Regions from separate parts of the Homo sapiens genome. Here regions 2, 3, 4, 5, 6 and 7 are each linked to region 1. Evidence: fine-mapped expression QTL. A gene starts in region 1. Each other region holds a variant in brackets. All regions are shown on one strand. Distances are from middle to middle.

Region 1 (4,295 bases):
GGAGGAGGCTCGGGCGAGTCGCGACGGGGCCGGCAGCACGCGCTGGGCCCGGTGTCTGTCCTCAGGCCCTGGACTCGGGGGGAGCGCGTTTCGGGGACTAGCTGGACTCCGGGCTGTGCGTGGGGGCGGTGCTGTCGGCCTGGGAGTGACGCGGGACTTCCTGCCCAGCGCAACCCGGCCTGGCCCCCGAGGGTGGGGGACAGGGCGACGCCCGCGGGGACCACGCTCTGGGGCGTGCGGGGCGCAATTCACGGGGCTGGGCTGCCCCAGGGGCTGGGAGGAAGGAGGCAGGGGGGCGCCCAAGTCTCCTACCCATGGCAGCGCATCAGGGCGCGTCCCAGAGCCGGGGGTGGACGGAGGCTTGGAGGCGGAGGCTTTGGGGACCCCCAAGCCTGGGCTAGAGCAGCCTCGGCGGGCTCTAGAGGGAGGGTGGAGGGAGGGGCCCGGGCTGCAGGAGGCGGGGAGGCCTGAGCCACGGTGGTGGGGCCGCTGGGCAGGAGAGAGGGGCTGCCTGACCCTGCCGTGTGAAGGTGAGGTTGTCTTCGGGCTTGGGGGGATCGGAGGGGGCGGTTCAGGTGGAGGTGGTGGCGGGGGGCTGGGAAACCGGCAGGAGGGGCTCTATGTAGAGCTGGGGGTGGGGGTGCTGAACCACGTACAGAAGGGGGCTGAGACACCGGGGCCCTGGGCCCCGGAAATTAGAAATGGAGAAATGGAAGGCTGGGTGCTGGCGTTTCGGAAATGCATGCTCGTGGTGTTCCTCTTTATGTAAGGGAAGCTTCTGGGCCTTTTCCCTGCCTGTCGAACGTTCTGTATGTTTTTGCGGGATGTGTGAGGTGTGCTGTCTTGCTCCACTTTGAGGCACCGCCCCCACTGCGGGAGTGCTGGGGACCTGCCCCATGGGGCATCCTCGGGGCCAGCCCTGTGGCCACAGGCATCTGGGCCCTCGCTGCCCCTGGCCGGGACACACTGCCGGTCCTGTGCAGTGGCTCAAAGCCCCTCTACCGGGGGTGACCCGGTCTCTCCGGAGATGAAGTGCAGCGGGGGTCTAGGCCGGCTTCCTGGCCCCCCACCCCTCCTGGCTTTACCCCCGAGGCCACGTCCAAAGCCCCCAGCGCCCCACCCCCGCCAGCCTCCCCCTTGAGGGCCCAGTGACCTAACTGGGCCGGCAGGGTCCGAGGAAGACCAGGGTCAGCGGCGGCACGGTCCGTTCCGCGACCCCTCTCCTGTGACCCCAGGTAGGCCGCCGATCGGTTCCCGGCTGAGGTCCCGCCCCAGCGCCCGCCTCCCGGGCTCCAACCTCTTTGCTCAGCCCGGGAGGCTCGGCTGGCTGGGGCGGGCGTAACCGTGGGGCGAGGCCCGCCGGTCTTTCTGATTTCCGCGGGCGGCGTGGGCGCTGAGGCAGCCGCGGTCAGGACCTGGCCGGGAGTCGGGGCTGCTCCGTGGACCCCGCGTCTGCGCCGAAACCCCGCATGGCTTCGGGGGCCGGACCTGCGCCTCCGCCTAACTCCGGCCGCCGGAGACGCCGTGCGGACCCCAAGCCAGTGCGCGGAAGACACCGTCCTACCCTCGGCATGGCTGCCTCCCACCCGGTCACGTCGGTCCCCGCGCCCCACGCCGACGCGCAGGCGACCCGGGGACGCGGAGACGCAGACAGCTCGGGACTCAGGTTCGTGGGAGCAGCGGCCGCGCGTGGCTATGACCGTCCCGGGGGCCCGTGCTCAGGGCGTCCCCGTGAGGTTTGGGCGCCACAGTCACCGGCGGCTCTGCCCGCGCCCTGGCCACAGTGGGGACAGCCTGGCTTGGCGGGGACGCACCAGTCCCGCCGCCGACGCGGAGTTCCTACCCCGCCGTGCGAGGCAGTGGCTCCGGCCCTTCCAGCTCGGGATGGAGTCAGGGAGCCGCCCGCGCCCGAATGCAGAGGCTCCTGCGATGGCCCCGGAGTGAGTCCCCCAGAGGAGCCGGATTAGGGCTGGAGGCGGCCGAGTCCCCCGAGAGGCCCCTCCCGACATTCCCGCCCCCGCGCGCCGCTCCCCGGGTCCTCCGCGTCTCTTTCCCGGGAAAGCCTCCCTCGGTTCCTGCGCGGCCGCACAGCCTGGACGCAGCGCACGCGGGCACCGGCCTGACTCTCCCACCCCGAAGCCTGCTCCCAACCTAAGTCCGCCCTGACTCTCCCAGCCTGAAGCCTGCTCGCCCTCGGGTGTCCGGGCTGGGCACAGGCGCCAGCGTCCCCCTGGAGAGGAGAGGTCGCCCGGCACCTCCCAGGACAGGCCCAAGTGGGAGTGGGACCCTCCTACCTTCCTGCAGCCTCGGCCCGCGGGGTGGGGGGTTGGGAGAGATGAAAGGAGGTGACCGATCCCGAACCATCGCCTCTCCATTAACCAGGGCCCGCAGCCCCGCCCCTCCCCCAGACATCGAGGAGCCGGGGAGGTGTGAACGGCCTCCTTTGTGCCTCTGAATCGAAGGCAATTAGGCGCTGCTTATCTGGGCATTAGCCGTGTATGCAAACCGGGCTCCCGCCCCCTCCTCCTGGGCTTATAAACGCCGCCGCCTGGCGAGGCCCGAGGTGGATCCTGCGCCTGGCCAGCCCCGCCTGGCCTTCCCTCCGGCCCACCTGGCCGCCATGCGCCTCTCCTCCTCCCCACCTCGTGGCCCGCAGCAGCTCTCCAGCTTTGGCTCCGTGGACTGGCTCTCCCAGAGCAGCTGCTCAGGGCCGACCCACACCCCCAGGCCTGCCGACTTCTCCCTGGGGAGCCTCCCTGGCCCAGGCCAGACATCCGGCGCCCGGGAGCCCCCTCAGGCCGTCAGCATCAAGGAGGCCGCCGGGTCCTCAAATCTGCCTGCGCCGGAGAGGACCATGGCCGGTAGGTCCGGGTGGGGGGGGTCCCTTCCTTCCCAGGTGGAGATGGGAGTGGGGGAGAGGCCAGGAGCCCGGCGGCTGCACTCCCCGCGGTGCCCTGCCCACTAGGTCAGGGCCGGGGGCGTTTCCATGAGGGCCGGCGGAGGCCTTGCCGGCGCCCTCACTGGAGCGCAGCTTCCCTCGGAACCAAAGCCTTGACGGGGATTTCCTCTCCTTGAGCCCCCGGTGGGCTCCTCTGCCTCCTTTTGTCACCCCGTTCCTCAGCTGTGTCTTCGTCCCCCACCCCGGCCTGGTGCCGAGGGACCGTCCAAGGGGTCCCCGTCCGCACCTCCCTGCCCTGATTCCGGGCGCTCACTGAAAGTCTCGATGATTTGCCAAGCCCCCCGCCCCCGCCCCCCAGCACAGCCGGTGCCTGCTCAGCGTCTAGGCTCAAGCCCATTCCGGGTCACCTGGAGCACAGCTGTCTTTAAAGAGCCTGCAGGTTCGCTGCAGGGGTGGCGGTGACCCCGATGCCTGCAGAAACTCTGAAGTTCCCTCTGTGGCCGCCCAGATGCTCTGTTGTCTGCTGAGAACAAAGGTTCTCTGCGTTTGTGTTTTAGTCTTTGTGACATCATCACCACTTTTAGGTTTAAGGTAGTACTTGGTCAAAAGTGGGGTTGACATCATCTACAAGTTTTCATTTTTAAAAATTTGACTGATCCTTATGGAGTGACTTTGTACTTAAGGGAAATGAAAATTTAAATGTATTCTCCCCAGCTAGCTATCCTGCCCCACCCCAAAAAAGCCAGCCATCCCTGTCCCGCAACCCCCTTTCTGATGCCAGTCCTACAGCCCTCCCTGCCAGAAGGCATTTGCTTTTTGGGTCTACCATGTGCTTTCAGGCTAACGTTAAGACAGATTTTGTAAAATACGCTTCCTTCCGCAGAAACTCCAGCGAGCATTTTGGTCAGACTTGCATTTAATGTCGAGCTCGATTGGCCACGTTGGCCTTTCCTGGGACCCAGACCCAGCTCCACAGACCACCTCGTGGGGCCGTTTGGTGCCAGCCCCCATTCCTTAACTTAGAAATTAGGAAACAGACTTGACCACAGTGGGCCTGGGGATTAACTGAGTTGGCCTCCGCTGGCTGAGGAGACGGAGCCCGGGACAGGGATGGGTGCCCCTGGGTGGGTCGCCAGGCCTTTGCATATAATGGATTCTTACCTTACCGGCCTGGAAGGCTGTGGGAAGGGCATCCTGGGAACCGGCTTCTGGAAGGGAAGTGTGGGATGGGGCGGAACTGAGTGGACTGAGCGGAGGGCAGGCCCAAGCTGCTGTTAACATTCCCTCCCCTCTTGAGCCCCCTCTCTGAGCCCCCTTTCCGCATGTGACCTGGGAGGCGGCGGGGGTGCTGCTGGTCACTGTCAGGTGAGAAGATCTGCCCTGCCCAGCCCCCAGC
Region 2 (4,295 bases), 300 kb before region 1:
GGTGGCCTTCGGATCCCCACACCCTGAGGTCTCCCAGGCTCCTATTCTCCAGCCCCACTCACTGCAACTCCAGACTCACAGGCCCCTGGACACAGGACCTCCCCCCATGGAGGGGACAGAGCTCTCCCAAGCCCAGCACTTGTGAAACTCAGTATTTGCTCTCCCTCCCAAAACGACTTACGCCTTTAGCATATTAATATAGAAAGTGACTGACAGGCTAATGGAATTTTTCTTTTCTTCCTTTAACTGAAGTTCGTCCATTAATTCATGACGAACCTGTCATAAAATGGAGCAGATTATTAATCTGGATTCAAACAATTCGGTAGAGGTTCAGATTTTGTGTCTAGATTTTATTTTCTCATTAATTTTGTATCTAGCTTTTCAGATACAACTTAAGCTGATTCCCCATATGTCAAAATGGACTGCTGATGAATGAATGCTTTTGGTACATATTCTTGTAGTAATTACTTGTATCTTTGTGAATTTTCTATTAACTTTAAAAAAATTCAAAGCTATTACAAAGGAAATATTTAAAGAGCGACGATAAAGGCAAAAGACCCTGTTTTGTTTTCTAAATGTCACAGTTCTATACATCTTTGCATTGGATGAACTGCTATTTCTTTTTAATATGCTTATGTAATTTTGTTCATGTATGTATGCATATAGATTTTTATATCTCTCAGCAAACTTATGTAATTTCTACGCAGTTTTCTGAACAATGACTTTTAAGAAAATTACTTCTTACGTCTCTATTTCTAATACGCTGATTTACCATAACAGAGAATATCTGCCGGTATTTCTGTGGCACGTGAGACTTAATGAACGGAGCTGCCGTGGAGCAGAACCTGGCAGCCTCCTCCTTTCTTCCGGCTTGCAGATAACACTCCAGAAGTTCCCTGGATAATAGAAACACACCACTGGTCAACCTGGTTGAAACTGTTTTCTCCTATCTAATAACCAGGTTATTAAACCATTACATATTTTGTGTTTCACAAAGTTTAAAAGCTACCCTGGGGTCAGCTTCTTCAGCCAGAACCAGGCTGTGTGGCTCACCAGGAAGGGCCAGCAGGTGCCAGACAGCTCGTTACCGCTAGCACCGGGGCATTTTGAAATGAAAGATCTGTATTGATATTCTTCAAAGGTTCCCCAAACGGCCATATGGCAAGTAACCAACACCTGCAGGCTGTGGGCTTGGTGCCGAGGGGAGCTGCTCTGGAGTTGGCACAGCTGGAATCCTCAATGGGGACATCCACCCGTCCCCAGCCTGCACAGAGAGTGCCGCAGACACAGAGAGGCTCGGACCCGTTTCCTTTCCGCCGCCCGGCACAGTGACCGAAGCATTGGTGACAGCCTGTGCGGTGACCCCTCAGGGCTGAGACCCAGCAAGGCCGGCCTGCCCTGTGCTGCCCCAACTTCCTCGCAGGGCTGCCTGGGCTCCGCATGTGCTGACTCTGCTTAGTTTTACGCTGTTAAAACGTCTACTGCGTTACCATTTTAAGAACTAAGATTGTAAAACCGTGAGCCAGGCTGCGTGGGGCAGGATCATATCTGCTTTGCTGGGAGTCTAAACACAGTATCTTGTTCTGTTGTCATAACCTCATAACCAGGGCACGGCAAATGTCATCTACAGATTTTGGAAACGACCTTCGGACAAGACACACAGAAACTTGTGACTGTGGGAGAGAACGCACATGGAGTGTGCCCCAGTGATGTGGAACTCCCGTCCCCCCCCCGGAGAAGGGGTGGTGGCCTCAGAGCCAGAGGGCGGCCCACCGGGAGGCCACAGAGGGCACGGCGAGCTCAACTCACAGCATCAGCTCAGCACGCCACTCCTTGTCTTCCTCCTCAGTCTGACTCAGCACGTTTATGATTTGGGAAAGGCTGGGGATCAGATGGTGACGATATCCAGGCTTGAGGAACGGCCTCACCATCTGCCAGTAGAGGACTGATGCATTGTACACCAAAAAGTAGTACCTGCGGCGCGAGCAGAGGAAGCAGAGAGC[A/G]CGCTCAAAGCCCAGCCGGCCCAAGCTGCAGAACCAAGGGGCCGCTGTGTCTCCGGAGCCCCTCCCAGGAGGGGCCTCAGGTCCTCTCCAGCAGATGGCAGCAGCCCCACCTGAGAAGCTTTGGCCCAGCCTGCAGGAGCACCAGGATGCAGAGCCCTTCCCTGGGACAGCCTTGGGCGACCCTGCGTCCGACGTGCCATGGCTCCAGCGCAGGCCCGGCTGTGATGACCCGGCCACAGGCTCCCGAGTCCAGACCAGGGCCTTCTTCATCAATTATTCCACAAACTGATCGGCCCCCTCCCATGAAAATACACCACTGGGCAAGGCCTCCTCTGACTCTCAAGGGATAGACAAGAATGGGCAAGGACAGAGGGAATCAAGGAAGGCTTCCTGGAGGAGGTTACATGCCTGCTGTGACCTGAAAGATGTCAGGAGGCAGCCAAGACAGTAGTAGAGGAAAAGAAGGTCAGGAAGATGGAGGAGAAGGGAGGAACCTTTGGGAAACAAAGTTCCCGTCTGCCAGCATAGAGTGTGAAGTGGAGGAGGGTGGGCTGGAAGAGTGAGCAGAGACCCCTCTCAGGGGTCTGGGCCTCTCCCTGGGCAGCAGGGAGCATTGCAGGGACTGAAGTAAGGGAATCCGGGCCCATCTGCCCTTCTCACTCTAGGGCCACTCCACAGTGGGGCAGGCCAGCTCTGCCATGTAGGGCCTGTGTGCCTTGTGGTCCTGGGCCGGCCACCAGGTGGACCAGCACTGCTCAATGCCCAGGTGGGAGGAGGACACCAGGGTGGCTGTGGCAAGCCCACTCCTCTGAGTTTACTCAGAGCCACCACGTGACCCTAGGACAGGACTCATCCTGTTTCCAGGTTTTCAGGAGAGGAGCGGAGGTGCGGGGTGTCCTGACCAGACGGTCACGCCTGCTTGAGTCAGAGGGGTCATCATGGGACTCCAGCGGCCTGCTGCGTCTCCCTGAGTGCTGCGTCTCCCTGAGTGCTGCGTCTCGAAAGGAACCCGTCTCCTCCCTGTAAGTGGCTCTCCCCAAATTCCCACTGTGGCCTCCACATGCCCGTGGTTGGGCTCACAGTCTCCTGTCCCACTGACACTGCCCTGGACAAGCCAGCGCTGCCCTCTCTCTCCACACAACCTGGACCCTTCCCAAAGATGGTCCTGACCTCTGGCAAGGCTCTGTCACCCCCTGACCCGTCCACAGTGCCCCTGAGGGCCCTGGAGCAGAGCAGCCTCCTTCCCATGGTACCCACCACTCCCGCGTCACAGCACCCTTGGAAATACCCCTTGTCTTTAGAATCTGTGGCTTGAGGTGGGGCCTCCCCGTCCCTGTCCCCATGCAGAGAGGATCTGTGGGGCTGGGCCCTACATCCCCAGCACTTGCAACAGGGTGTGACCAGAGAAGGCCACCAGCAGACAAGCAGGCCGATGTGGGTAGAACAGACCAGGGAACCCACAGCTTCTATTTAAATATCCTCCAAACATTGTATCCTATTTGAATATGTGATATATGTTCAAGCAAATATGCTTGAAACTGTCAAGCTTGCACAAAACTGATTTGAATAGGATATGAATCAGTTTTGTGCAAGCTTAACAGTTTGAAGCATGATATTTGTTTTTGTGCAGAAAGCACTGATTTTGTAGAAAGTGCTGGAGTCGCCTCCGCAGGGACAGCGGCCTTGGCCAAGTTGTCCGCTAGGGAGCAGCAAAGGCACGCTGGGCCGAAGAAGGAACCGTGGGGAAGGAGAAGGCGCCCTGGGGGTGCGCCCGGGGAGGCCCTGGAGAAAACAGACTCTTTTTTTTTTTTTATTGATACAGAGTCTCGCTGTCATCCAGGCTGGAGTGCAGTGGCGTGATCTGGGCTCACTGCAACCTCCGCCTCCCGAGTTCAAGTGATTCTCCTGCCTCAGCCTCCCCAGCAGTTGGGATTACAGGCATGTGCCACCACGCCCGGCAGAAAACAGACTCTTCACAGCCATCTAAAATCACGAAAACCGCCGAGTGCAAAAGAGGCTGTTACTCGGAATTCGGCATGAATGTGGCCTGTCCACACGCTGACGAGATGAGGGAGTGATCACACGTGCATGAAAATCACAGACCACAAACGAGGGGAAACCCCACAGTTCAAATAAATACACCCACTTGATAAGTTCTGGCTCTGAAGTCTTTCACCCAGTCAGTGAGAAACGGCCACTTCAATTTTGCCTACCTCGGTTCTCCTTTGGCAAAGTTTATGGCCTTCATGTACTCAGTCACGCAATTTTCAAATTCCTCCTAAGGCAACATAA
Region 3 (4,295 bases), 20 kb before region 1:
CCGTGTGGCCAGGCTTCATGAGGATGAGCACAAGGACAGGTGGCTGTCACCTGGCCAACCCACATCGTCCTGGGCGCACCCTCACCCCGAGCTGCCCCAGCGGGTGGAGGACTGCCCCTCCCAGCCTGAGACCCACCTCGAGCCTGCGGCGGCCCTGCCTGAGGGTCTCCGGGATGGCCGCTCGTCCTGGTCACGCACCCGTGTACAGGTCTGCAGGGTGGGCAAGAGTCGTGCAGGCTCACACCCAGGGCTGCTGGCACCCAGCGTGGCCGGGACAGAGCTCGGCACTGCTGCCACATCCCCGTTAGCAAAAGGGAGCTGCGGATCGCTCAGAACAGGCCCCTCACCTCCTCACGGGAGCGGACGGACCTCGCCGGAGACCCACTTCTAAAAGCACCACGCTCGTCCATCTAACAAGTGTTAGAGCCACGATGTCCTGACGTATTGTGTCTCAATGGCTGTGAGGTCGGAACAATCCAGGACACTGAGTTTCACATTTGTAAATTCAGGACCCCAGAAAATCATTAAAATACAAAATTCGAGCACAGAGGGCAGCAGTGATCAATAAAAATGCTCGGGGGTCAGTGGCTCCGTTCTGACGATGCCTGGAGTGAGGCGAGGTGGAGACACAAGGGCAGGAAGAAACGGCATAAAATTTCTCACCTGAAGAAAATGGGGGGTCGGTGGTTCCGTTCAGACAATGTCTTGGTGGCACCGTTTAGACGACGTCTGGAGGGAGACAAGGTGGAAACAGAAGCAGGAAGAAACAGCGTAAAATTTCTCACCTTAAGAAAACGCAGGCCGGTCGCAGTGGCTGATGCCTGTAACCCCAGCCCTTTGGGAGGCCGAGGAGGGCAGATCACTTGAGACCAGGAGTTGGGATCAGCTTGGACAACATATCGAAACCCCGTCTCTACTGAAAATATAAAAAATTGTCCAGGCTGGTGGCGCACACCTGGAGTCCCAGCTCCTCAGGAGGCTGAGGCGGGAGGATCACTGGAGCCCAGGAGGTGGCGGTTGCAGTGAGCTGAGGTTGCACCACGGCAGCCTAGACGACGGTGCGAGACCCTATCTCAAAAAAAATAAAAAATAAAAATGGGGAGTTTGAAAGCAGAATAGGGCTTTGGTTTCTTTAGATTTGTTTAAAAATATGGAACACCATAGCCAAGAGGTGGAGGCACCTAAATGTCCACGGAGAGAAGAACAGATAAAGAAAATGCGGCCTCTTTGTACCTTGAGAACTTATTCAGCCTTAACAGGAGGGAAATTCTGACGCCTGCGGCAGCACGATGAACCTCGAGGGACTCAGGCTCAGGGAAACGAGCCAGTCGCGAAGCACGGACAGTGGACGGCTCCACGTACACGAGGCGCCTGGAGGCGCAAGATTCACGGAGACAAAGTAGCAGGGTGGGCGCCGGGGGCTGGGAGTGGGGCACGGGGAGCTCGTGTTGAACGGGGACCGAGTTTCCGTTTGGGAAGATGGAGAGTCGCAGACATGCTGCACAGTGTGGATGTAGTTAACACGGCTGAACCGTGCACTCAGAAAAGGCTACAAAGGTAAATCCTCTATTACATACTTTTTACAATTAAAAATCAAAAGGTTAAAACAACAGTGAAAAAGTGTGGCGAAATAGTTTTATCTCAAAATTACATACTTTGCATCTACTTAAACCGATGAAGAAACAGACTGAGACGTCAGCGTAGA[A/G]AGTGTATCCGGTAAACACTTCTCAAGCTCCTCTCAAGGCGCTCAGGCAAGAGGGCTGGGGCCGCAGTCGGGGTGAGCCCAGGATCACATGAGGCGCCTTCAGCTGCACAGGGGCCCTGCAGACAAGAGTTGAGCCCGGGGGCAGGCGCGGTGGCTCACGCCTCTAATCCCAGCACTTTGGGAGTCCGAGGCGGGCAGATCACGAGGTCAGGAGTTCGAGACCAGCCTGGCTGACATGGTGAAACCCCATCTCTACTAAAAATACAAAAATTATCACGCCTGTGATCCCAGCACTTTGGGAGTCTGAGGCAGGCAGATCATGAGGTCAGGAGTTCGAGACCAGCCTGGCTGACATGGTGAAACCCCATCTCTACTAAAAATACAAAAATTATCACGGCTGTGATCCCAGCACTTTGGGAGTCCAAGGCGGGTGGATCATGAGGTCAGGAGTTCGAGACCTGCCTGGCCAATATGGTGAAACCTCATCTCCACTAAAAATACAAAAATTATCACATCTGTAATCCCAGCACTTTGGGAGTCCAAGGCGGGCAGATCACGAGGTCAGGAGTTCGAGACCAGCCTGACCAACATGGGGAAACCCTGTCTCCACTAAAAATACAAAAATTATCACGCCTGTAATCCCAGCACTTTGAGAGGCTGAGGCAGGAGAATCACTTGAACCCGGGAGGTGGAGGCTGCACCGAGCCGAGATCGCGCCACTGCACTCCAGCCTGGGCCACAGAGCAAGACTCCATCTCAAAAAAAAAAAAAAAAAGAGTCGATCCGGGGCATGGCGTCCAGCTGGACTCTGCAGCCTTGGTTTCCACCAAAGGATGGCCCAGGCCAAGGTGATTCCTCAGGGACAGGCAGCTACAACAGGAGGGGTCAGCTGAGTTCTCCAGAATCTTCCTGAAGCCCTGGAAGTGGATCCAGGAACGCAGCCCTTTGGGACTGCTCAGAATAGGAATCCTGCTGGGTGAGGCATTCACCACCCATGGGGTGTTCCAACCAAGGCCAGCAAGGTCGTCACCGCCAGCCACAGAGCCCCGGAGGAGGGGGCGGCACTCAGGCACCCACCCCGGACTGCACCCAAACACTCCTGCCACGGGCTTGGCGCAGCGGGTTGGGGGGTGGGCACGGAGCTGCCTGTGGCTCCCCATCTGCCTGTGGACACGACAGCGGCCTCTCCCTGGGTGGGGTCGCCTTTCCCAGTCCTGAAGCTGCCTGGGGAGGTGCATCCAGGCACAATCTTGCTTTTGAGAAGTGAGGGTGGACTTCTTTTCAAGTCTTTCCGCGTATCAGGCTTTGCTTTTATTTTGTTTTATTTCAAGTCATGCCCACCCCGTCCCGCCAGCCCAGCCCCTCCACGGCCACCGCTCACCTGCGTCCACACAGCCGCTTCCTTTCCACACACGTGATGCAGCACACGCTCTTGTGTCTTGGAGCTGGGTGATTTTAACAGGTTCTCAAATATTCCCTTTGTTCATCTTAAACCAGAAGACGCTGAATGTGTCATTTTCTTATTGCAGCTGCAGGTGAACTTGCTGTCCAAATTTTTGCTGATTGCAAAATCTTGCTATGAGCAGAGAAACTTCGCGACAGCCATGCAGATCCTGAGCGGGCTGGAGCACCTGGCCGTGAGGCAGTCCCCTGTGCGTCCCCCTCGGGCCCCAAGGCGGGGGTGGGTACCCGCACGGCCGCAGGAGGCTCACCTGTGCTTTCATTTCAGGCCTGGAGAATTCTGCCTGCAAAGATAGCAGAGGTCATGGAGGAGCTGAAAGCCGTGGAGGTACCAGCACTTTACGTGGCCGGGCGGCTTTGGTCCCCCGAGGCCCTCTCCTAAACGAACTGCTGTGCAGAGCCTGCCGCACCCAGACGCAGGCACCACAGAGTGTGTGCAGGTGGCCCAGCCAGGGTGGCCTCACGGAGGCCTTGGAGTCATCTCCCGGCAGGGCCTCTGTTGCCACCTGGGCAGAGGTGTCCCACCTGCTCGGTCCCGGGGCCTTGCTGGTCTGAGTTCCTCACACAGAGCACAGGTGCCCAGAGGACAGCACTGAGGTCTGTGGCTGGGGCCTGAGCTTGACCGACCTGGACCTCCTCCAGGACGGCAGGGGTGGCCTCATGAGATGATGAACAAGGAATTGCTGCTGGAAGTGACCAGCCATCCCCAAACATGACTCAGACGAGTCCCAGAGCAGCCACAGCCTGTCCCCGTCTTGGGTCTCAGAGCTCGGCCTCAAGCCCCAGCCACAGCTGTCCACGGGTGGGACGGCTCCTGCATGTCTTTGCTGGACACGCAGACACGGGGCCCTGCTCTGGTCAGCCGGGGTCTCATTTAGGGAAGCTGGGTTACCTGGCACTTCCTGGAGTCCAGCAGAGAGCAAGGAAAGGGACTCACCATTTCAGCAGCAGGAGGCACAAAACCTCCCAGCGGCTGTCAGGGCCGTGAAAGCTTAAGACCCCGCAGGTGTGAGCCAAGTCCAACCATCCAGGAACATTCGGGACTGGAAGCTAATTCAGAGAGCCGGGTAGACCCCGTGCGTGGAGAACGCAGGACCCGCTGGGACTGGTTGGGCTGCGCTGGCCCCGG
Region 4 (4,295 bases), 48 kb after region 1:
CGCACACAGACATGAGCTTGGAGAAGACCTTCAGCAGCTCGGGGTTGGTGAGCATGCAGTCCTTCAGGCAGGTGTCCAGGAAGCCTGTGTGGTGGCCAAGGACGTCGTCAATGTTGGAGGCCTGCGGGGAACAGGCCAAGCCCCTTCTCAGAAAGACGTGGCTGACAGACGGGCCCTGCATGCGCACGTGCTCAGTTCTGGCTTTGTGCATTCCTGTTTACGCACTTCTACCTCTTAAATGGGCCTTGGGCTTTTAGGGGAAAACTTCCAAACACCACTAAAAAAATGATGGGCACACCCCGAAGGGGTTTCATTTCTTAAGGCAGAAGACAGGAAGGGAGGCTGCGGCAGCTTCTGGAATTTGGTACCAACAGATTCTGCCTTCAGGCCCCTCAGCCTCAGATGCGCAATGTGGGAGAGACAACCTCGGGGCAAAGACGGCTCAGAGTCCCCCTAGGACGGCAGGCAGCAAGGGGTCCCGTGTGTGGCCAGCAGTGTGGGTGCAGCCCCGCCCTGGGGGATCCCTTCCTCTCCCCTTGCCCTGCCTCTCCTGCACTCCGTGTCTCCCTGCACTCCCTGCCTCTCCCGCATTCCCTGCCTCTCCCGCACGCCCTGCCTCTCCCGCACTCCCTGCCTCTCCTGCACTCCCTGCGTCTCCCTGCATTCCCTGCCTCTCCTGCACTCCCTGCCTCTCCCCTCGCCCTGCCTCTCCTGCACTTCCTGTCTCCCTGTGAAAGGAAAGTGGCTTTCAAACGTTATTATCTGTGGAGCTAAAACTCACGGATTTCAGGTTTTTCTCCAGGATGTGCCAGGTCGGTTCCATCACTTCAAACATCATGTAGTATTGAATATTCTGGACGAAGTTGAGCATTCGCTGCCGCAGAGTGAAAGCCCCAGCAAACCTGAGTGACACGGAGGACGGAGGACAGCCATGGAGGACGCGGCCCCGACAGCGCCCACCAAGTGACACGGAGGACGGAGGACAGCCATGGAGGACGTTCTCTGGACGTGGCTATTTCCTCTGCAGAGCAAGCGCCCCTCCCAGCACACCAGACACTCACGGCCGCTGCTCCTGCGTCTGCCCAGCACAAGCTGTCACCGTCTACCAACCTGTGCCCTGCAGGGACACCCCCAGCCAGCTGGACGGTGGAGACTGGGACGCGGGCTCCTTGGTGGACGGACCCCTCGGAGCCCACGCCAGGAAAGTGCCACACAACAGATGCATATTTGTGCTTCATCATCAAGATGAGTTCTTTTTCTTCTAATTTCTTTTTTTCTTCGAGAGACAGGGTCTTGCTGTCGCTCAGACTGCAGTGCAGTGGCACGATCTTGGCTCACTGCAGCCTTGACCTCCTGGACTCAAGCAACCCTCCCACCTCAGCCTCCTGAGTTGCTGGAACTACAGGCATTCCCGGCTAATTAAAATAATTTTCTTTTTTTTTAAGAGATGAGCTCTTGTTACATTGTCCAGGCGGGTCTCGAACTTGTGGGCTCAAACAATCCTCCCTCCTCAGCTTCCCAAAGTGCTGAGATTACAGGCATGAGCCACTGCACCCGACTGGACAAATTCTTATGAAGCTCTGCCATCGACCCCTTTTTTCAACACCCTAGAGGCACAGACCGGCTGCAAAGCACCTCTGGTCCCAGCAAGATGTGGCTGTCCGCTCTCGGGAGGAGCTAGTGTCCTGCACACCGACCTGGGCAGTCTCCATGCCCGTGCAGTCACCACAAGGCTCCAGAGAGGGCTGAGGGACAGAGCCAGCATCCCCTGTGGGGTGGACGGCAGCGCCGTGCAGCCCCAAGACAGGAAAATGAAGCAATGAAGCATTATGGATCTAAAGCCACCAACGTGCGCTTCCAGATGACACTTCCAGAAGCCTAGAAAGCTGTCTACCAGGAGGGCACAAGGGGGGC[G/A]CTGCACCACTGGGCAGAGTGCAGCGAGCGCTGCTTCAGGAGGGCATGCGGGGGCAGAGGAAGAACGCACCACTGGGCGGAGTGCAGCGAGTGCTGCTTGGCGGTTTTGTTGCTGATCCAGACGCTGCAGAGCTGCCGCTCCACGTGCTTGCAGTAGAACATGTGCCTGAAGAGCATCTGGTAGCGAGTGAGGGCTTTCCTGCAAGAGACGTGGCGGCACCTCAGGTGGGCCTCCGTGACCGGCGGCGTCGTGGACACGGCGTCTGTACTCCACAGTCCGCACCGTGGCCCCCGGACAGCCCGTGAATCTCTCGGACACTGAAGGCCGGGGAGAGCCGCCTTGGGTCCTCTGTGGGACGAGGTGGCCACCGCGTGGCACAGTTCTCGCTTCTGCCAAACCTGAGTGAAGATCTGGCAGGTGCCCGAGCAGCCGACCCGCACCTGTTGATGATGAGCGAAAGGGGCCACTTGACGATGTAGTCGAAAGAGAAGGCCTCCAGGCCGCTCAGCGCCAGCTCCGTGGGGTCGGCGTGCGCCATCGCCTTCTCCTGCTTGGTCTCGATGGCCAGGACGCGCAAGAGCTGAGTGATGAGGTCATGGGGCATCAGGTCGATCTTGGAGGGAAGGAAATGAAACAAAGCATCCAGTTTTAAGGAAAAGACCCGAAGTCGCATCCCGATCGCCATCCTCGCTCACAGACCCAGCGCTGACGTAAGGTTCCCTACATTCCGATTCTAAATATCAGAGGCTTTTCAAAAACCCAAACATCTACTGATAAATCAAATTCAAAACTGAACCACTTCCCATCAGAACAAAACAACAAAAATTCAGATGAATTACTTTGTAAATACCCACTGCTGCTGTGGGTGGTATAAGGGAAAAACCGCTAAGGACGGTGAAAGAAACGTGATTCCTTAGGACGAAAACCTTTGTACCATGATAAGCACCAGGCCCAGGTTGAAAAATGAAGCATATTTGACGAGGGACATAATAGTTATTATAAGCAAGTAATACTGTCCTCACGTTAATCACTCGAGTATTTGCTAAGTTCCAACCACCCGCAACAGAGTTCCTACAAAACCATCGCACAACGACAGGACAGGAAATGAAGGGCAGGGGATAAAGCAAGAAGAAACAAGCAGCGGACAGACGAAATCGTGACCATCACAAACGCAGAAATGAGCCCCTGACATCACTTGTCCATCAAATAGCCAAGGTGGGAGCTTTCGCAGGTGTGCAGACAGCAGCGTCCTGAGACTGGACTCCATCAACTCCAGCAAGGTCAGCCTAGTCATACAAGGGCCATGTATTGTGACCCAACAATTTCACTACCAGGAATTTTTCCTACGAAAATATTCCTGCTCCTAACAAGAGACCCCAAAATATCTGAATCAAGAATAGACAGAATGACAAGGAGAAAAGCAGTTCTTCAGTGACAGGGAGACTCGGTGCCCTACTTCTAACCACGGAGAGAACCGCCGGACAGACGATCAGTGAGGAAAGACACGGCCTCAACCCACCTGCAGAACACCACCCCAACAGCACCGAGGGCGCGTCCTCCTCCCGCGCGCACGGAACCGAGGGCACATCCTCCTCCCGCGCGCACGGAACACTCTCCAGGATGGATGTGGGGCCACTACACAAATCAATACATTTCACAAAACTGAAATCACAAAAAGTCTGTTCTCTAACAAGGAGATAAAGTTAGAAACAAGCAACAGAAGGAAAACCAGAAACTTCACAAACATGTGGAAGTTAAACATAAACCACCCACGGCTCCAACAAGAAATCAGAGGGAATCAGAAACACCTCCAGACAAACAGAAATTATGACGCTAGGGGATCAGCGAAGGCTGCACTCGGAGGGATGTTTACAGCTGTAAACTAACTTTTCAAATTAAGAAACTAGAAAAAAGAAGACCACACTGAACCCCTAAGCAGCAGACAGGAGTAACAAAGATGACAGAAGAGAGAAAACAGAAAAATACAGTCAACAAACCCAAGAGTTGGTTCTTTGAAAAGATAATGAAATCGACAAATTTCTAGCTACATCAGCTAAGACGAAAGAAGATTCAAATTACTAAAATCAGAAAAAGAAGGGATATAACTACTAATCTTACAGAAATAAAAAGCAGATACTAGAAACCCATGAACTGTGCACCAGACAAGATGCGAGACAGACAGCCGACCAAGAGGAAAGGGACTGAGCAGACCTGTGGCCAGCAAGGGGCCAAGTCCCCCTCAAAAGTCTCCAACAAAGACAAACCCAGGGCCCAAGAGCTCCCAGGCAAACCCTGCCAAACAGCCAAAGAATCAACACCCTCCTGGGGAGGCGCAGGTGAAGGATCGCTTGAGCCCAGGGGTTCAACCAGCCTGGGCAAC
Region 5 (4,295 bases), 57 kb before region 1:
TCCCTAAGGCCAGGCCCAGGACAGTCAGGGGTGCCGTAGGACTCAGGTTCCTACCAGGGCCCACCGGGGACCTGTGGTGTCTGCTCCCTGACAGCCGTCAGCAGCCACCATGAATCCTGCGAGCCGCCACAGTAGTCCTCACCTTGGTTCGTGAGCAGGGCTCCCGCTCTCAGGAGAGCCGCCCTCATCGACGCTGGGCAGCCGCAGCAGACAGTCCCTGTGGACAGAGAGGTGGGAGGCTCGACTCCTTCTCTTCATCCACCTGTTTTCAAAGCAGTGAGTGCATCCAGCGTCCTCCAACGTGGACCAGTGAGCTTGGTTTTATGATCTTATGAATTTAAGATTCGCACGTCTTTGATGGGATTTTGTCTGTTCTGCTGATTCCACCTGAAGCTCAGAAGGCACCCCGGTCCTTGGGACGCAGCTCTGCTGGGCTCTGACCCACTTCCTGGTGTGGCAGGATGCTCCAGCCCCTTCTATGGGGTTCCTGCCCCGAAATCTGATCAACCATTTGTCTGCAGAGCCCTGGCCAGTGAGGCCCTGTCTGGGCCCAGGCGGTCCTGGGAGCCCCCAGGTGCGTGTTCACAGTGTCCTCCTGAGGCCCGGGCTGTGGTGGACCCACCACGCTGAGTGCTGCAGCCGCAATTCTTCTTTGAACCAGTCACCTCAAGTCCACTGGAATTGCTTCCCAGGGCCACGAAGAGCCTCCCAGGGCTGACCTGGACCCTGATCCAAGAATCTCCAGCAGAGCAGAGGAGGGGCTTCCTGAAGCGAGACTCGGGAGAGTGTAACCCGCTTCCTACCCCCTAGAGAGGTGGCCTTTTCAGTTTGGAGAAAAACTTCAACCAGTGTTGAACTGAAAACCACTTGGCTTGACCGCGTTTGCTCAGGAATCGCATCTCGTGGGGAAGTTTTCACGTCCACTTCACGTGCGTGGCCAGGCCCTGTCCCCACTCGAGGCGAGAGCTACCGGGATGCCCATCGCGATCGCAGGCGCCGTGGGAGCTGCAGGCTTTGGACCACAGAGAGGCCCGGAGCAGGAAGCTGCAACGTCCACCTCCTCGACCCGGCTCCCCGTCGCCCTGTGGCCTAAGGTGTGATCATTTCATGCCTGATCGGCCTCCCTCCAGCCTGTTCCCTCCGCTGACGGCCAAGCCCAGCCAGGCAGGGCCACTCGGTGCTCCCAGGACAGCGTCCCAGGTTTTCTGGCCCACAGGCTTGGAGAGTGGGCCCCACCCTCCCTTCCTCTGCCAGACGCCTGCCCGTGGTCCAGCCTCGTCCTGCTGCCCTGGGGCCTCCGAGGTCCTTGTTTCCTGAGAGGAGCCTTCCCTGGCAACATGACCCCCAGGGAACTCACTCAAACGGCTGCTCTTCGCCGGTGGCTCAAATACTGCAGCTTCTGATTCCAGCACAGTTTCTCACAGAAATCTGTTTCTCCATGTATCGCTGTCTCCTGACCCCCGCGGGCAGCACACAGTTGTGTTTCCCTCCTTCAGGGTGCACCATCCTTCAGGTCAGAAGCTTCCAGAAGGCAGAAATGCTGAGCTCCCTGCATCGGTGCAAGGCAGGCCCCGTATGGCTCTGCACCTCGAGGGCCGACTGCGTCCTCTGGGCTCCAAGGGGCCCCTCGCCCGCGGCCATGCAGAGACCTGGAGATGTGAGGCTCCGCGGCTGCAAGGATAGCGTCTCAGGGGCAGGAGGAGCCCTTCCTTATGGTGCCAGCCGGAGGGTGCCCTCCAAGTTCACACCCCAGAGAGTGAGGCTTCAAACAGATTAGGTCTGGATAT[C/T]TTAAAATTATAAAAATATTAGCAGAAACAAAGGAAAGCTGTCCCTGTAGCCTCGGGGTGGAGAACATCCTCCTGCAAAGCTGCTGAAGATAAACAGGTCAGATTCCACACATGGGCACTTAGAGCTCTTGGATGTGAGAAGACACACGCACAACGTTAGAAGCTGGCAACACACACAGCAAGCGTGTGTGCGGCGCCCAGGCTGAGGCGAGCCCTGATGCGCAGGGGCGCTCGGCAGTCCTACCTCAGCGGAGAAAGCATAGTCCTTGCATGGGGATTTAGAGGAAAAATTAAAACTGCGAGTAGATACGAACAGATGCTTGGTCTCATTCATAATTACAAAAATGCAAATTAACTCGACGAGTGAGTTTACTCTAACAGATTGGCAAAGCCGCAGAGACTGGCTGCGGCTGGTGAGTAAACCGGACGGTCATTTATCAGGAGGGTTTGTCGCAGCTGTCAGAATTGTAAGTGGAGGTGACCTGGGACCCAGCATCCCCCTTCTTGGAATTGAGGCTTTGCACACCTGACATGGCTGCACAGATGCCACATGGGGCACCCACTGACGTCACACGCGGCACCCACAGACGCCACACGGGGCACCCACTGACGCCACATGGGGCACCCACTGACGCCACACGGGGCACCCACAGATGCCACATGGGGCACCCAGGGAAGTGTCGGTCATGACAGCAGAACATGGGAAGCACCCACAGCAGCATCAGAGCGGAGGGGACGGACCCTGTGTGCCCAAACATGCATGTCACAGGTCCCCCAGGGAGGCGGACCCTGGCCCAGGCACGAGAGGCTGGCAGGTCCCCCCCGGATGGCACAGGAGACCCCAGGAGTTGGCAGCAGAGCAGCTATCGGGGCTCCTGGCCCAAGGTGCAAAGTCAGAGACAGTGGCTGGGGCCGGTGCCAGGCGAGCCGTGAGGGGACAGGGAGGTGCCAGGTCCCCTACCAGAGGTGCGTGCACAGCAGGGAGTCTGTGGGGATGGCCAGCGGCCGGGGGCCTGGCTGGTGTGCCAGGTGGGCTGCCCCAGGGCACCAGGCAGGGTGCAGGAGGGAGAGGGTAGAGGAGAAGCAGAAACCAGCCTGCGGGGGAGGCAGGGCCAGGCATGGGACAGAGAAGGTCAGCCGGGGTTCCTGACCGGGAAGGAGATTCACGCCATGAAAAAGCCAGGATGCAGGCAGAGTGCAGCTGGGGAGAGAGAAGAGATGCGTGTCCAGCTGTCTGTGTGTGCTGGGTGTGCACGTATGTGTCTGCATGTGTGCCCGTGTCCAGACCAGGAAGCCCCAGGACCGTCCACACACACACACACACACACACACACCAGACTGTGGAAGTGGAACCACCTGCGAGGCAGTTTATGCCCCAGAGAAGAAAGTGTGGGGTGCTGGGTGCACCTGGTTTCTTCTCTGTGACACTTTCTGTCTTGTTCAAATAAGACATCTCAGGAGAAAAAGGAGTTTGAGGCAGAATTGGATGAGCTTGGTGATAGTGGTTGGAGCCAGGCTCAGGTGGAGTCAGGGGCCCTGGGATCTGGCTGGGTCCCTGCAGCCTGACCCTGAGACAGACCCTGACAGAGAGGGGGAGTCGGCCAGGATGACCAGCTAGCCTGGGGCCGCGGGATGCAGGGCTTTCTGTGAAGACTGGATGCTCCGCTGGTCACCTTGGACCTCACGACGGACTGGGGAGGTGGGTCTCAGGGTTCTGTGACGATATCTTGAGACCACCCAGGGAGAGGCCTGGGGCCAGGGCAGCCCAGGACACGGATGCGCGTCCACTCAGCCAGCCCAGGACGCAGGTGCATGTCCACTCAGCCAGCCCAGGATGCAGGTGCGTGTCCACTCAGCCAGCCTGGACTAGAGTGGACACTTGGGAGCACAGGTGCGGGGGCAGAGCAGGCCCTGGGTCAGGTCCTGGCTCCACACATGAGCTGTGTGACCTGCGATGTGGCCCCAGGCAGGTTCCTGAGCCGCTCTGCGTTCTGCTTCCTCTTGTGGGAAAGGTGAAGCCCCACAGGCAGCCGTCCTGGGAAGAAGTGTCCAGGCCTGAAGTGCGGCCGTGTCCAGGGTGGACCTCGTGCAGAGCCCACCCTCTCAGGCAAGGGAGGAAAACCCAGACTCTCAAACAAAAAGAAAAACCCATCTTTCCTTCTACTGAAATCCAGTTTTTGAGGTTTTGAAGTTTTTGACCTAAACACTGAAAGGCCAGAGGAGTCTGTGTCCCTCCAGAAAGCGCAGAGGGGCGGGGCCATGGCCAGCACAGATCTAGGCCCAACTGCGCGGGCGGCGAGGGCGCGGGCAGTGTGGGCGCAGGTGGTGTGGGCGTGGGTGGCATGGGCGCAGGCGGCAAGGGCATGGGTGGCGTGGGTGCGAGCAATGTGGGCACGGACGGTGTGGGCACAGGCGGTGTGGGCACAGGCGGTGTGGGCACAGGCGGTGTGGGCACAGGCGGCGTGGGCACAGGCGGCAAGGGCATGGGTGGCATGGGTGCGAGCAGCA
Region 6 (4,295 bases), 220 kb before region 1:
TGGGATGTGTGAGGCTCAGGTGGGAGGAGAAGGCTCCAGCCCTCACCACGCTTGGCCCTGCCTCCAGCAAGGACCCCCACCCCAGGGCTCCAGGCCTCGGGCTGCTGCCTGTCTGATGTGAGCGTCCTCACCCTGTCCAGAAACCCACAACTGCCAGGACCGTGGGGTGACAGCCACGGTGGGCTCTGCAGGCCCCTCTGGTCTAAGACACCAGGAGGCCACATCCAGCAACCAAGGCCACCCGGCAGGACACGTCAGGATGGAGGTGCAGTGAAGACTGCGGTGGACGCCTCCAGAGGTTCCCACTTGGCTTCCAGTGGAGCCTCTGCCAAACCCGGCCTGTGCAAGGGCAGAGACAAGGCCCAGCAGGGCTCGAGCAGGCCCAAACGCACGACGCAGCTGCTGTGCCTGGGTCTGAGCTGCACCCACAGGTGACGTGAGGGGCGCCTAGGAGGCGGGGGAGGCACGGGGCCGGGAAGGCTCGGGGGTCCCAGAGCTCTCAGTATGCACCATGCCCGGGCAGCCTGGTTAGTCAGGGTCACTGTGGCGGGGAAGTCGGGAGCCAAGAGGCAGCTCAGCTGCAGGTGGCTCAAGACAGCAAGGGCTGCAGGGGGACCAGGAGTTTCAGGCAGCCAATGGTGCTGGCGGCAGGGCCGGGATGGAGCAGGGCGGGTCCCCGAGGCCTGCTGGTTGGGTCAGCCTTCCGAGGCCACTGCTGGGCATGAGACAGAAGAGATGGCATGGCTGATGTGATGGATGGGGGCCCGACACTCTAGCCCCAGCCCCTCCCTGGCTTCTGGGAGGCCCGGGCTGCCTCTGGGCAGGAAGAGATGCTGCTCCCTGCAGGCCAGGCCGGCTCCGGTGGAAGGAAGTCCTGGGCGTCCGCTGCAGGCCAAGGCCTCTCCTGTGCACCTGCCCTCACTGCGGCTGGCAGGGACGGACGTGTCCGGAGGCCTCTCCTGTGCACCTGCCCTCACTGCGGCTGGCAGGGACGGACATGTCCGGGCCGCAGGGTGAATCCTCCACGCTTTTCCTTGTCTCTGTTGCAGTTTTCCTGGCGTCTTGTCCTCTGGATGGGCCTCTGGATGAACATAAACTCCAGGGAAGCTGCATAGAATATGCAGCTCTTCTTTAACGCTCCCTAGAGGAAGAAAGCCCCTCAGCCGGAAGTATTGTTGACGTCGCCGCCACTACTAATGAAATATTTACTGAAAAGCCAAAGCGAAACATTTTTCTAGTTAATTAAAACAGTGCATCTTTCAAGCAAGCTCCCTCGAGGGGCCAGGCTCGGACGGACCCAGCGGGCAGGCAACCCGAGGTGCTCCTGAGTGGGGTCTCGACTGGGAAGGGGGCGCCCAGGACGCAGGTGGGGTTCCTGCCACACGACACTGAGGGGTGGGGGGACAGACGCTGCAGAGACCCTGCGAAAGGCCCCTCCCGATGGGTAAACTCACACTTGGTACACGCTGGCAGGGGCATCTGGGCCTGCACTCTGGAATTGGTGGTGGTCCTGGGAAGGTTTTTTGGGCCAGGGACAAGAGTACTTGGGTTTGCTTTCTGGAAAAATGAAAAAAGAGAAGTTTCTGTGTTCTCTCAGCTGTGTTAAACGCTGGCAGAAGTTGCCTCTCGGACCCTCCGCAGGGCTATGACAGGCTGGAGAAGTGGGGGCTCGGGAGGGAGCTCAAACAGCCTGCAGACTCCGCCGCAGAGTCCGCACCCCTGGAAGGAGGCGTCGGGGAAGGCACTGCACCCACGCATGGCTTCGAGGGCAGGAGGCAGGTTGCACAGCGGGGGTCACAGGCTCCTCTGTCCCAGGTGGGACTGGGCGATCCCAGACACGTGTGCTGTGGCCTCTGGGCCTCATGCGGAGAGCAGATGCCAGGGCCTGCAACTCTGACCTCTGAGCACACAGGCCGGCCTCAGGGAAGGGTTGTTCTGGCTGTGGGAACCTGAACTCGAAATGGCCTCCGTTCGCTGCAGACACTGCCCGCCTGCACCGGGGACTCAGCCCAGGCAGCTCTGCACACACCTCAGCACCACCCACCCTCAGGCCTCAGCCGCGCTACCCAGCAGGCGCTTTTGCCCAGAACGCCTGCTCAGAACACCGTGAGCCACTGCCCGGCGCTGAGCCGGGGCCTCCGGAACGTGAACCAAGC[G/A]GCTGCAGCCCAGGCCCAGAGCCACCGGCATCGCCCCATGGCAGCTGCAGGACCTGGAGTGGGCAGGGTCCAGGCCAGGGAGCGGGGTAGCCCTCACCCAGGAACTCTGCCCCGGGGGGTCTCTTCCTAAAAGTGCTGGAGTTGATGGATCTGGTTAGAGCACCAGAGCCCAGCCCATGGCTCTCCAGGAGTCTGGGGCCCTCAGTGAGGTGTGTCGATGGGGACTAGGAACTGGGGAGAGTCAGGTGGAAGGGAATGTTCCAGAATGCCTATTTGAGAGACTCAGAACAAACGTGTTTCTTGTCCTTTGTGCCGTGGCCGGGCATCGTGGAGAAGCTGCATCCAGGGCGGGCCCAGCCAGGCAGCGCCTGCCTCCCCACTGCCAGCCCCTGAGATGGTCTCATCCGCTGGGCGAGCAGGCCAGGGCTGCCCGTCTCCACCTTTGTGCTGGACCATTTACAATCAAAGCGCAGCATCGAGATACCCAGGAAAGAGCCAGGAACAGGCCAGGAAGCTGCTGCCCCACCACTGACCCCACCGCTCTCCTTCCCTCCTTCCTTCCCGCTGGGCTGGGCACAGGTGGAGCTCACCGTCGTCCCCCTTCATCCCTTGGCCCCTCCAAGGCTCAAGGACTGGAGGCCGACTGGGCAGCAGACATGTCACCATCACCATGCTCCCCGTCACCACGCTCCCTGTCGCCATGGTCACTGTCACCATGCTCCCTGTCGCCATGCTCCCCCTCGCCACGCTCCCTCTCGCCACGCTCCCCGTCGCCACGGTCCCCGTCGCCACGCTCCCCGTCGCCACGGTCCCCGTCGCCACGCTCCCCGTCGCCACGGTCCCCGTCGCCACGCTCCCCGTCGCCACGCTCCCCGTCGCCACGCTCCCCATCGCCACAGTCCCTGTCGCCACGCTCCCTGCGGGTCTCCCCATCCCCCGTGCAGCTGAGGGGGCCGCATGCGGTTCTCTGAGTCTTTGGAATGTGCAGGCACCTGTGAGGCAGCGCCACCTTGGAAAAATTTGCACGGTTCTGGCCGGGGCTGCCAGCCTCCAAGGACACCTTGAGCCTGGCAAGGAGGGGTCCAACCATTTCTCATGTATGGCCACACACCACTTCCGTTCACAGAGACCCCAGCCACTCCGGGCGCCAGGTGCTGACGTGCCACGTGGGCATCTAGTAGACACGGATGCCGCATGGGGGTCTGGTAGACACGGATGCCGCATGGCGTCTGGTAGACACGGATGCCGCATGGCGTCTGGTAGACACGGATGCCGCATGGCGTCTGGTAGACACGGATGCCGCATGGCGTCTGGTAGACACGGATGCCGCATGGCGTCTGGTAGACACGGATGCCACATGGGCATCTGGTAGACACGGATGCCACATGGGCATCTGGTAGACACGGATGCCATATGGGGGTCTAGTAGACACGGATGCCACATGGCATCTGGTAGACACGGATGCCGCATGGGGGTCTGGTAGACACGGATGCCGCATGGGCGTCTGGTAGACACGGATGCCACATGGGCGTCTGGTAGACACGGATGCCACATGGGCGTCTGGTAGACACGGATGCCATATGGGGGTCTAATGGACACAGATGCCACATGGGCGTCTGGTAGACACGGATGCCACATGGGCGTCTGGTAGACACGGATGCCACATGGGCGTCTGGTAGACACGGATGCCGCATGGGCGTCTGGTAGACACGGATGCCGCATGGGCGTCTGGTAGACACGGATGCCGCATGGGCGTCTGGTAGACACGGATGCCGCATGGGCGTCTGGTAGACACGGATGCCGCATGGGCGTCTGGTAGACACGGATGCCATATGGGGGTCTAATGGACACAGATGCCATATGGGTGTCTGGTAGACACGGATGCCACATGGGCGTCTGGTAGACACGGATGCCATATGGGCGTCTGGTAGACACGGATGCCACATACGGCGTCTGGTAGACACGGATGCCACATGGGCGTCTGGTAGACACGGATGCCACATGGGCGTCTGGTAGACACGGATGCCACATGGGCGTCTGGTAGACACGGATGCCATATGGGGGTCTAATGGACACAGATGCCATATGGGTGTCTGGTAGACACGGATGCCACATGGGCGTCTGGTAGACACGGATGCC
Region 7 (4,295 bases), 41 kb before region 1:
GTGCTCAAAATGGGTGATTTCCTACTTATCTGACTCTAGTTGGCTGTTCTATGCTCGTGGGGCTGTCTGCGTCTGCTGTGCCTGGATGGGGGAGACTCTGTAAAGGGGAGCTGCCTCTTCCCAGCTCCACACTCAAGGGCACTGCATTGGTAGCCAGAAGTCAGCCACGTGGGAGTACTTACACCAGGGAAAGCAGCAAACGCTACAAATGTCTTGTTCTGTTGACTCTCTGGACTTACTGAAGTGATGGAGAACACGTGGATGATGTGATTAAACTTAAAAGTGTGTCATGTCTGTGGCCGCTCCCTTGAGAATAGCCCAAAAGGTGGAGGACATGGTCTTACGATATCAACCGCGACCATCTGATTCAGCAAAGACGTCGCTCAGAGGGGTGCCCCGAATTCCAGCATGGGTCTGTCCGGCTTCACTTCCATCTCATTTACTGAAATGAATGAAAACATCAACCAACACTCATGTCAGCAGCACTCGTGTATTGTGGTGGACTGTGGATGAACATGGGTTTCATTGATTTTTATCAATGAAAGCCTTCAGTGAGAATTGACTGGCTCTGTGGAACTTACAAAACGTGCATCAAATGGTGTGCTGTGCATCCCTTACATCAGCAACGTGCCGGATGAACTCAGTTTGCACACAGGCGGTGTGTTCGCTCGGAGAGCCAGTTGTTAGCCATGTAGCAGCACGGCACCAGTCGGGGGGCTTCCGGGAGCAGGCACCAGTCGGGGGGCTCCCGGGTCCGTGAGGTGGGGGCTATGCTGGCCAGTTCTCCTCAAACCCTCGAGCTGCTGCCTTCGTGAGGAGAGTGGAAGGTGGGAAAGTCCAGTTGAGGCTTCCAACCCTCTGGTGTTTAAAACGCGGACAGAACCATGGGGGAGAGTTCGACCTGCAGGTTCCTGGACCACGACCTGGAGGCGGATGCAGGGGTCCAGGGTGGGGCCTGATAGATGCTGAGGAGGGGTCTTGAGGAGAGCCCCTCTGTGGGGGCAGTGCCTGGGTGCCCCTCAGGGTGCCTGAGGTGGGCAGGTCTGCTGGGCACAGCAGCCCACAGCCCTGCGGTAGACACTATTCTCTCCCCACCCGCCCAGGCCTCTGTGTACTGTGTGGCCGCCGTTCTGTGGACCGCAGCCAAGTTCAGCGTCCCCCGCAACCACAAGCTGGCCCTGCCACGCAGGCTCAAGACCCTCCTCCTGGACATGGCCAGGCGCAGTGCCCCGGAGCGGCCGTCCGCGGCTGAGGCCATCAAGGTAACCACACCACAGTCATGGCCCCAGCCCAGGGTCCAAGGACTGTGGGCAGTGGCCGCCCTCGCTGAGCTGGGGGTGGAGGAGCACGGGCTGCCAGTGTCCAGGTGATGAGGCCACCAGGTCTGTTTCTAGGTCCCTGTTTCTAGACGTCGGCCTGGCCGTCGCATGGGGAAGGGAGTGGGTTTCGCGTCATGGCCACGTCCATGTGGGTGGACAGCATGGGGGTCTCTGCTGCTCCCCACCATGGCCGTTCCTCCTGCGGAGCCCGCTCTCTCCAGCTTGTCCAAGAGGCCAGGGCGGGGGCAAGGGGTGTCCTGTGGGCACGTGCAGACCCCTGCTCTTAGGCCCTGCTGGAGGGGAGCAGAGAGAGGCCTCCACACCTCACCCCCCACCCCGAACCCCCACCTCCTCTGAGGATCCCACCAGCCCCGCCCCTCCCTGCCTGGTCTCCCTGCTGGACTCAAGCTTTGGGGCTGGGTTCTAACGTACTCCTGCTGGGACCTGCACCCGCACCCGGCATGGGGACCAGCGGGTGGACCAGCAGGTGGGGCAGGAGCCAAACTCTCATGTGTCAGTGATCAGGAGGACCTCCTGGGGAGGAGCCGAGCTGGGTGTGGGTGATCAGGAGGACCTCCTGGGGAGGAGCCGTGTCTGGGGGAGCGGAGACGGCCATGGGGTTGGGGACCTGGGTCCAGCCGTCTCCGCCTCGACTGCTCTGTGGTCTTGGGCGGGTTGCTCAGACCCTGTGGGCCTCTCAGGCCTCCTCTGCTGCAGGAGGATGAGATCTAGACACGGCTGGGCGTCTGCCAAGCAGTGAAAGCAGATTTTATTCAGTAACTACTGAGAGCTGGGGAAGCTGAGCTCAGTTCCCA[T/C]GTGCACAAGGCCTGAGCTTATAAAGGGAGGACAGGAGTGGCCGGGGGCAGGGAGCGTGGGGCTCAGGCGAACGTGACCAAGGGCTGCCAGTGTCCAGGCGACGAGGCTACCAGGTCTGTGGCCAACGCTGGGTTTGGGATTCTGCCCTCCCAGGGAGCCTGGGGGACAGTGGCCGACTGTGAGCCCTTTTCAGGAAATGCTCTAAGAAAGGCTTGTCCGGGGCCTGTAGTTGGGTGTCGGTGAGAACAAACAGGAAACCCTCCTGGCAGCCCTGAGCTTTTTCAGATGGGGACCCAGTGACACGGGGACGGTGCAGCCGTGGCTGAGGCCTGTCGGGACGTGTGAACTGTCTCCTCCCTCCAGGTGTGCGGCAGCTACCTCCTCCAGCGAGGCATGGACAGCCGGAAAATCCTTGCCCACCTCAGAGCTTCCATCTGCCAGGTGGGCTAGAACAGCCAGGCCGCCGCCTCCTCCGCCGCGCTTAGCTTCCTCCCTCCTGGACGCACTTGCCCTTGCCTGGCCGCTCCCGGCAGCCCCACACCCCGGTCTCTGTTGACCACCGAGCTGTGGGTGGGTGCATCTGGGGGTGCAGGGGGACACTCGAGTCCCATCTAAAGGCCCCACAGTGGCCCCCAGGGACCCAGATCAGGATCAGGGCAGGGTCCCAAGGACGGCGGCCCAGCACCCACCCCGGGCGCAGAGAGCTTTGGGAGTGTGGGCCCTGAGTCTCGGGTGGTGCTGGCGTCTCCCACTCCCTGGAACCCACGGAAACCTGGTTGGCTTGGGAGGCAAAGGAGCCCCAACGGCTCCCTCTCCAGGCAGAGCCGCTGCAGAGCTTGGGCCGTGTGGCCGCCATGCCCGGCTCCTCCCCAGCAGGAAGCTCCACGGCACCGGCGGGTGGTGGGGGACGCCCTGTGGGTGTTGCCGGCGCTGGCGGAGCTCCGTGGTCACCTGGCCCAGGGCTGTCACCTCCTCCCCAGGTGTACCAGGAGGAAGAGACCATCAGCCTCCAAAACGCCTTCTCAGTGGTTGAACTGAAGCCCAGTGTGGCACCAGCCCCAGAGCCCAGCCCAGGTGGGGACCTGACCAGCCCCTGCTGCCCCACCAGCTCCTGCACCTGACACCACAGCTGCCCCCACCTCTGCATGGACAGACACAGCCGGGCACCTCTCGGAAACCCGGGAAGCAAGTCCAGAGCTCGGCCAACGTGGCCCATGCAGCCCAGCCTGCCTGCCCCTGCCAGCCCCCATCTCCCAAAACTCCCAGTCGCTCAGGCCCCAGCTCCAGGTTCTCACTCCCATCTCCCAGCAGCTGGCCCTCCCAAGCCCACATCTGGAGACCCCCAGAGTCCACACAGAGCCCACCCCACCCCCGTACTGAGCCCTGCTCAGCAGGCCCCTCCAAGGCTTCTGGTGGGGCCTGGTCTTGCTGGCCCGTCCCCGCCTGCTGGCCCTCCCCCAAGCACCAGTCTCACCCACCCTCCCATTCCAGGGCCCAGCACAGAGGAAGCCCCCAGGGCCATGCGGGAGGGGACGCGGCACCACGCACTGGGTGGGATGAGCACTGGGTGGGATGAGCCGGTGGTGCGGCACGTGCTGGGGCCACTCCGCCCGCCCACACCCTCAGCCCCCTGGCTCCCCAGGCTTCCTGCCGGTGAACAGCGACACCGGGCTTGTGGCTGTGCCAGGGCCCGTGCCCGGCCAGCACCCCTGCGGTGAAGAAGCCACCCAGCTGCCTGCAGCGTTCACCTCCGAGGCCACGCACTTCAAGCCCATTGTCCTCGCGCAGAACGCAAGTGTGGCCAGGTGAGCATCGTCCCCACACCCCGGAGCTGCTGGGTCCCGGGCGCAGGCAGCCCCTCCTGAGCTCTGCTCCTCCCGTAGGGACCAGCCTGCCTTGGCCCAGGAGGAGTCCGAGGAGAGGGGCGGCCAGAGGGAGGGAGAAGGTGAGGAGAAGCTCTCCCTGGAGGCCCACGCTGGGTCCCCCAGCCTGAAGACGCCTGACGGGCCGGTGCCTGGTCCGGGGCCACAGGGAGCAGCCCCAGAGCCTCTTGGGGCGTCAGTGCAGCGTGACTCAGCCCAGGGCCGCCCCTGCCCTCCACCCCAGGCCCCAGCAAACCAGCCAGAGGGGGCCTCATCGGCAGCTCCCGGCTCTCCAGTC

Evidence for each region. PIP is the estimated chance that this variant, and not a neighbour inherited with it, causes the effect.
Region 2: its variant is fine-mapped to the expression of VENTX in T cells (TOPMed, PIP 0.90).
Region 3: its variant is fine-mapped to the expression of VENTX in whole blood (TOPMed, PIP above 0.99).
Region 4: its variant is fine-mapped to the expression of VENTX in whole blood (TOPMed, PIP above 0.99).
Region 5: its variant is fine-mapped to the expression of VENTX in whole blood (TOPMed, PIP above 0.99).
Region 6: its variant is fine-mapped to the expression of VENTX in whole blood (TOPMed, PIP 0.94).
Region 7: its variant is fine-mapped to the expression of VENTX in whole blood (TOPMed, PIP above 0.99). The same link has a PIP of 0.9 or more in blood mononuclear cells.

The regions. Positions count from the first base shown.
Region 1 is chr10:133,235,295-133,239,589 of GRCh38, forward strand. VENTX (VENT homeobox) reads left to right here and starts at 2,561. Exons shown (of 3, transcript NM_014468.4): 1 at 2,561-2,861. The coding sequence starts at 2,621. RefSeq lists enhancers at 1-326, 1,536-2,139, 2,140-2,744, 2,745-3,348.
Region 2 is chr10:132,936,780-132,941,074 of GRCh38, forward strand. CFAP46 (cilia and flagella associated protein 46) reads right to left here. Exons shown (of 58, transcript NM_001200049.3): 4 at 4,217-4,281; 5 at 1,810-1,974; 6 at 773-896; 7 at 182-276. Among named protein-coding and RNA genes, the nearest start is that of CFAP46, 3.6 kb to the right of the region's middle. RefSeq lists enhancers at 854-1,581, 1,582-2,307. The variant A/G (reference allele first, on the strand shown) is at 2,004.
Region 3 is chr10:133,215,597-133,219,891 of GRCh38, forward strand. It overlaps KNDC1 (kinase non-catalytic C-lobe domain containing 1), which reads left to right. Exons shown (of 30, transcript NM_152643.8): 27 at 3,235-3,357; 28 at 3,435-3,494. LOC105378573 (a long non-coding RNA gene) reads right to left here and starts at 3,241. Exons shown (of 5, transcript XR_007062351.1): 1 at 3,087-3,241; 2 at 1,656-1,821; 3 at 664-729. The variant A/G (reference allele first, on the strand shown) is at 1,706.
Region 4 is chr10:133,283,101-133,287,395 of GRCh38, forward strand. TUBGCP2 (tubulin gamma complex component 2) reads right to left here. Exons shown (of 18, transcript NM_006659.4): 12 at 2,356-2,528; 13 at 1,985-2,113; 14 at 782-902; 15 at 1-121. Among named protein-coding and RNA genes, the nearest start is that of ADAM8, 8.4 kb to the left of the region's middle. The variant G/A (reference allele first, on the strand shown) is at 1,915.
Region 5 is chr10:133,178,741-133,183,035 of GRCh38, forward strand. All of the region lies in intron 3 of KNDC1 (kinase non-catalytic C-lobe domain containing 1), which reads left to right. Among named protein-coding and RNA genes, the nearest start is that of KNDC1, 21 kb to the left of the region's middle. The variant C/T (reference allele first, on the strand shown) is at 1,788.
Region 6 is chr10:133,014,184-133,018,478 of GRCh38, forward strand. It overlaps LOC112268067. Among named protein-coding and RNA genes, the nearest start is that of LINC01168, 51 kb to the left of the region's middle. The variant G/A (reference allele first, on the strand shown) is at 2,157.
Region 7 is chr10:133,194,560-133,198,854 of GRCh38, forward strand. It overlaps KNDC1 (kinase non-catalytic C-lobe domain containing 1), which reads left to right. Exons shown (of 30, transcript NM_152643.8): 10 at 1,104-1,262; 11 at 2,499-2,576; 12 at 3,116-3,209; 13 at 3,778-3,940; 14 at 4,019-4,295. LOC105378574 (a long non-coding RNA gene) reads right to left here and starts at 1,777. Exons shown (of 2, transcript XR_946511.3): 1 at 582-1,777; 2 at 1-442. LOC105378573 (a long non-coding RNA gene) reads right to left here. Exons shown (of 5, transcript XR_007062351.1): 5 at 2,637-2,715. The variant T/C (reference allele first, on the strand shown) is at 2,135.